Linked DNA regions of Homo sapiens. The protein of the gene in region 1 interacts with the protein of each later gene in a pairwise test. Each region holds a gene or a part of one and is shown on either strand. Other genes may lie near its edges.

Region 1 (3,500 bases):
ATTATACTTTCCCGCCAATTTTCATTTCTATTCCATGCTTATAAAAACTACTCTACTTTTTTTTTTCTTATGGTTTATATTGTGAATTTCTTTTCTTTTAAGACGGAGTCTCACTCCATCGCCCACTAGAAATGCAATTTCAGCTCACTACAACCTCCGCCTCTCAGGTTCAAGCAATTCTCATGCCTCAGCCTCCCAAGTAGCTGAGACTACAGGCACCCGCCACCACGCTCAGCTAATTTTTGGGTTTTTAGTAGAGATGGGGTTTCACCATGTTGGCCAGGCTGGTCTTGAACTCCTGACCTCCAGTGATCCGCCCACCTTGGCCTCCCAAAGTGCTGGGATTACAGGCGTGAGCCACTGCGCCCCGCCTGTATCTTAAATTTCAAATAAGATATATTCAGAATATAATCTAAATTTTAAAACTAATTGCTTTATATTCCATTTTAGCGTTATTAGTTTTTAATTATAGTAGCTTATATTTTTTGTTGAAAAAAAAAAGGAAAGAAAAGAAATGAAATAGTAGGCTATTAAGGGAAAAGTAAAATAAGAGTCCCCATACTTCACTTGAGCCCAGGAGTTTGAGGCTGAGATGAGTTATGATCACATCACTGCACTCCAGCCTGGGCAACAAAGTATCTCTTTAAAAAAAAAAAAAAAAGAGTCCTTGTGTTGACCCTCTAATTTCATAATGAACAAAACAAACAAACAAAAAAAACCCCTGCCCTTCTGCCCTTGTGGAGCTTAGATTCCAGTAAGGAAAAACAGGTAATTTACCAAATAATCACACAGACAACGGTGAAACCACAGTGTGATTAGTACTACCAAGGCTATGAGAGCCTGGCTAAGTGATTCAGTCATGTAAGTCAGGGGAGGCTTCCCTGAAGAAGTGATGCTTTTAAGTGAGAAAAGGCAAGAAGGAATGAAGTAGTCGGAGAGGAGGGCAAACCAATTCAAGCAGAGGAAAGGGCATGTACAAAACCTCCTGTCCTTCATTCATCCTATCCCCACTTTTCAGCCGCTATATGCACTTGGCAATCCAGATTTATCTATTTTTAAATGCCTCTTATATCCCTGAATCTCCATTCCCAACACCAGCAACTCAATTCCGATACTTGTACTTTTGTACATGGATTAATATAAAGAGCCTCTAATTGGCTTCCATGATATTATTTCTATTTTGCTACTAGAATAAAGTTTCTTAAAACTTTAAGAATAAATTGCATGCTCTTGCTTTAAAATTCTCAAACTGGGCCAGGCATGATGGCTCACACCTGTAATCCCAGCACTTTGGGAGGCTGAGGTGGGTGGGCTCCTTGAGCCCAGCAGTTCAAGACCAGCCTGAGCAACACTCCATCTCTATAAAAAAATACAAAAATTAGCTGGGCATGGTGGCATGTGCCTGTAGTCCCAGCTACTCAGAGGAGGCTGAGGTGGGAGGATCACTTGAGCCTGGGAGACTAAGGCTGCAGTAACTCAAGATGGTGCCACTGCACTCCAGCCTGGGAGATAGAGTGCAGCCTTGTCTCAAAACACACACAAACACACACACACACACGCACACACACTAAAATAAAATTCTCAAACGGATTAGAGGAAATCCCTGGGCAAGGGTCTGAAGTTGAATAGAACATACTGATCTTCAGGTGACCCAGCTTCATCTAATCATTTCTATTACAGAGATATTTCTCTTTTCTTATGAATCAAATCCTAATAAAACAGATAACGTTTCTTTATCACCATCCAATAAATAGAACACAGACAAAAGAACAAATAAATCTTCAAAGACATCTGTTTACTAGCCTATCCCCGCTTAACTCTTCCAGGTTCCTTTAAGCCACCTGGCCTTATTTCCCACCACCCAGCATTATAAACCCTCTGTTCTAGTGAGGTGTGACTTTCCCAGAAACACAGATTGTGCGCTTCTGTTTCCATGCAGTGTTTTCTCATTGCCAAACATGTTCTCCCCCTCCATCTTTTCGACCTATCGTAATTTCATCTTCATTCTTGGAACTCCCTCCCTTTTTTCTGGCATGCCTACTACAGCTGTCCCTCTTTCTAGCCTACACTACGTAATTTAGTCTTCATTACCTATTTGGGCAATCTTTGATTCTGTCCTGGCCCTTGTCCCCAAAATGCCTAAATTTTAATGAGGTCGACATATGCTATACTCAGATTCAGCATGTTAAGAATATCGTAACTCTCAATAAATGCTTGTTGGTGAAAGACTCACTATACTTTCTGGGTAATCAAAAGATGATTATCTACTAAGTGAGTTTATAATAGAGTTGTAATGAAGTACTTGACTATATACTATATAATGCTTCAAATATATTCAAATGCAGGAAATATGATCCCAATTCTGCAAGAAAAAAAGTTGCTTATATATTCATGTGCAGAAAATGTCTAGGTTATTCAAGAAGTTAACGTAGAGGGTGTGTGGGAGAATGGAGAAGAAAGAAGACACACATTTACTTTTCACATTATATCCATCTATTCCATTTCAATTTTTTAAATGTCAAACATAAATTAGTTCCATAATCATAAACTAATAACATTAACTAATAATGTTGAAGTAAAATATAAACCAAATGTTTTTTTAATTCTATTCATTCTGAATATACCTTATTTGGAATTCAAGTATACATTATAAAAAAAATTTAAGGCCAGATGTGATGCCTCACACCTGTAATCCTAGCACTTTGGGAGGCTGAGGTTGGTGGATCACTGGAGCCCAGGAGTTCAAGACCAGCTTGGGCAACACAGCAAAACCCTGTCTCTACAAAAAATACAAAAGTTAGCCAGACGTGGTGGCAGGTGCCTGTAGTTCCAGCTACTTAGGGGGCTAAGGTGGGAGTCCAAAAGGTTGAGGCTACAGTGAGCTATGATTGCACCAATGCACTCTAGCCTGGGCAACAGAGCGAGACCCCGTCTCAAAAAAGACAGAAAAAAAAAGTATATATATACTATATGTGTACATATATATATATATACACACACACACAGAGAATTCTTAAGACTTTATAAACATGGAGTGAAAACAAAAATTGGAGTAAGCAAAGTGTAAACTTGAATTGCTAGAAGTTTAGAAACATATATATATATATATTTTTTGACACAGATCTTGCTCTGTCACCAGGCTGGAGTGCAGTGGCACGATCTCAGCTCACTGCAACCTCCATCTCCCGAGTTCAAGTGATTCTCCTGCCTCAGCCTCCCAAGTAGCTGGGACTACAGGCACGTGCCACCACACCCAGCAGATTTTTTTGTATTTTTAGTAGAGACGGGGTTTCACCATGTTGGCCAGGCTGGTCTCGATCTCTTGACCTTGTGATCTGCCTGCCTCGGCCTCCCAAAGTGCTGAGATTACAGGCGTGAGCCACTGTGCCCGGCCCTGGAGATATATTTTTGAATAGACCTTACCAAAGTTCATTTGTTACTATGAAACCATTAAGACATAAAATTCACTAAGCTCATTTTATCTAGTTTAACATAAGCTA
Region 2 (3,500 bases), on another chromosome or scaffold:
GAGGGCTTGAGACACACTTCAGCAGGGTCCCTCACCAAGTGGATCACACACCAGGCAGGCACCACGCCAGGCGGGTCGCACAATAGAGTGGGATCATATATCGGGCGTTTGTTTCTCCATCTGCAAAGGGCTCTTCTGAAGCAGGTGACTCCTCTGCCTCATGTTTCCCAGCTCCCCCATGCAGAGATGAAAAAAATAAATACATATATACATAAGGATTGCAACATGTGAAAAATGAGAAGCCATTAAGGGGCAGGAGCCCTGGAGGAAAGGCCCACCCCTCATCCACCATAGTGCAAGTGCATGCAGGTGGTCACCTGTGCTCTCCACACGCTTCCTGCTTCCATGAGGGCATGAGGGCACGTGCAGGCTCAGAGCAGGTGCACAGCCTGATGCCAAGGTCCTGCTGGAGCGGAGGGTGACAGACCTGCTGAGTGGGGAGCCTGTGGCGGGAGATCGCTTCCAGACCATTCATTGTTCAGCTCAAGGCAGAAACAGAGAATTCATGGAGATGTCAGTCACAATTTTCTTTTACTTTATTTGGAACCAGTGTGAGCTAATAGAGTGTGTTTTGTGTGTTGTGTGCATATGTATATGTGTGTTGTGTGTCTATGTGTTGTGTACATATATGTTGTTTTTGTGTGTCTGTGTATGCATGTGTGTGTCTTGTGTCAGTATTTTGTGTTGCTTGTTTTGTGTTGTGTGTTGCATGTGTGCTTGTGTTGTATAGGCACCTGTATGCATGTATATATGTGTGTTGTGAATGTATCGTGTGTTGTATGTATGCATTGCATGTGTCTATTTGTTGTTTGTATGTGTGCATATGTGTGTGTGTTGTGGGTCTGTGTCATATATGTTTTTGCTTTATGTGTGTCCGTATGCATGTGTGTCTTGTGTATTTTCTGTTGTGTGTATGCTTGTGTTGTATAGGTGCCTGTGTGCATGTATATGTGTATGTGTGTTGTGTGTATGTGTGTGATGCATGTGTTTGTATGTGGATACAATGGCTTACAAAGGGGACTGTTATAGGGGACCTTTGAATGTAGTAAGTTCTCCCTCATTAGAGGTGGATAAACATTATTTCTTAGAACATAGGAATTTGGGTGAAGCTTGCTTAATAACAAAACATGGTGGTTGCAGGTCATTAGTTCTTTTGCCCCATGAAAAGGGATCATCCTCATGTGGGGCAGCTGGAATCCCTCCGGCCCATATGGGACATTGTTCTGACTGCTTCCCTTCTGGATCAGGAGCCTTTTCTGCGCACTCTTCCTCGGCAGGGTGAGGTACCAGGCCTTCCCTGCCTTCATGCACCAGCTGCGGCTGTGGCCATGTTCAGAGGAGGCAGGAGTGCCACACTGGACTTGCTAAGGGGCACAAAGAGCCTTCCCATTTTCCCAGCCTGCACCTGTCACATAATGCTCCCCTCTCAGGCATGAGCTAATCTCCTAGTCCTTATACTACAGTCTTTGTTTGCAGAGTTTTGGGTTAGAAAACACTTGAAAGTGGTTGATCCCAATAACAGAATCGAATTCTTGGCCAAAGCAAACCTCCTTTTCTCAAGGAAGGATGCCAGCCGAGAGGCAAGTTACAGATAGCAATGAAGAAATAACCTGAGGCTTTTCTCTGTCTTTGTGGGTGATAACATCAGCGGACCACCAGCTAGGCGTTAAGGAAGGGATAAGATGCAGCTAGAAGAAGGCCAGAAGGCTAATCCGTTCCTGACATGCAGAGCTAAACACGCTACCCTGAGATTTGCTCCATGGTTGGTTTGCAGGGCTCTTACTCCCTGCCTGCAACTTGGCTCTGACAGTGGTAGTTTCAAGAACTCCGTTGTGCGTTTGAATGCTCTGCTCAGATTTCATGGCCGATTGAGAGAACCTGGTAAGTCAGTGTCATGTCCAGTAGCTTTTGCACTGTGCCTTGGCAAGGTTATCCGCTTAGCAGGTAGTCCAAGCCAGTGTCTAACAGAATAAGTATTTCTTGGCTGAGCTGAAGGAAAGAGCAGAGGCCACCAGCCACATTTGAGGAGACTTTCTTCTTACTTCCAAAGACTAAACAACAACTGTGTAAAATTACTTCTGTCATGGTCAGGGGCCAGTAGGTCATAAGAGAAAAAAAAATCCACTCAAGCAAAAGCTTAAATAACAAAGGATGTGTTATGAGGATTATAGGGATCTCACAGAACCCAGCTGCAAGACCTTGGAGGAAAGGGAAGGTCAGCACTTTCATGCCCACTCTCTCTCTCACCTGTGTTTTTATTTTGGTCTAATTCATTATTGTCTTCCTATGGATAAATGCCATGCCCAAACATTTGCTTATACATAGTCCATCAGAGGGCTTCATTCCCCAATTTTATATGTGCCCCCACTACACATCTTCCCAAGCATAACTTTGTCAGTCTTGTCTTTCTGGTTTCAAGTTCGAGAGAGAGAGAGTAATGCTGGCTGGCTCAGCATTGCTGAGATTGATGGCTCTAATGGCAGCAGCTGTCTCATTTCAATCAGCTGTTGCTGTGGCCCAGCGGGCAGGGTCATGGGCCACCTAGTGCTGTTCATCATCTCGGGCTTGGGGCGGAGCAGGTTCTCTGAGAGGGAGGGAGGGAGGGAGGAAGCAATGGATCTGCCACTGCTGTCAAGCATAATGTCATCTTCACTAAAATTAAAGGCTGGCATGAAATTGGAGGTTATCTCCAATGATCTGCCTGGTCAAACTATTTGCAAAGAAAGTTGGTCTAAATCAACAAAGTGAAAACAAGCTCTGGCTGCTTTTTGGTCTTCCAGTTTCCTCCAGTTGGGTTGGGTGGAGGAAGAGATGAAGACTCTCCAATCAAGATGCTTCTCCCTCTCCTGCTGTCAGGCTTAACTCCTCCCTCCAAGCCAAGACTATGGCCTGAGGCCAGGACAGATCCACTCCTGCAGACCCAGAAAAGGCAGGGCTGGCAAAACCACAGCCTGCAGCCCTGCAGTGGGACCTCATCTAGATCAGAGGCTTTTATCTGTATTGCCAGTAATCAGTGGAGACTCAGTATTACAACTTAAAAATAATGTAATAAATATTTTTCATTTGAATGTGTAACACTTGTAAATGATTCCACTAACCAGTAATTTCCTTTGTCGTGCAATTTATTATTGTTCAGAAGTTGATTCTGAACAGCCCAAGGGCCCATCTTCCTTTTATAACAACACCTACAGGAGAAAAAAAAAAAAAGCAAATCTTCTTACGGATTGTTTAATACTGGCCCTGTTTTGTCATTTTGTTGTTGTTTTATTTTGCTTTTTTGCATCTTTGTGAGAATTCATTTTCTTTTATACTCTTGGTACTTCTTATCGCTTATTTCTACACTGTTTGAAAGGTTTGTCTTTGTTCTTGTAGCAATAGTTTTGCCGTTGTGTGTCTACTGTACTAAGACTTGGGGCTCAATGAGCTTTTTGGCCCATTTGATTAACTTACATATTTTTCTCCATAGGAAGCAGCCATCAGTTGCTGGGTCCAGTTCAGTG

The links.
Region 2: the proteins of TRAPPC11 (region 1) and TMEM132D interact in a two-hybrid assay, tested with the Homo sapiens proteins (one large-scale study listed by BioGRID).

Annotation. Positions count from the first base shown.
Region 1 is NC_000004.12:183,686,793-183,690,292, reverse strand, and holds part of TRAPPC11 (trafficking protein particle complex subunit 11), read right to left. Parts: intron 1-3,500. UniProt on the Homo sapiens protein: Involved in endoplasmic reticulum to Golgi apparatus trafficking at a very early stage.
Region 2 is NC_000012.12:129,075,026-129,078,525, reverse strand, and holds part of TMEM132D (transmembrane protein 132D precursor), read left to right. Parts: intron 1-3,450; exon of another isoform or gene 3,451-3,466; coding exon 3,467-3,500. UniProt on the Homo sapiens protein: Regulate neuronals morphology via inhibition of the WAVE regulatory complex (WCR), a complex that controls F-actin cytoskeletal dynamics.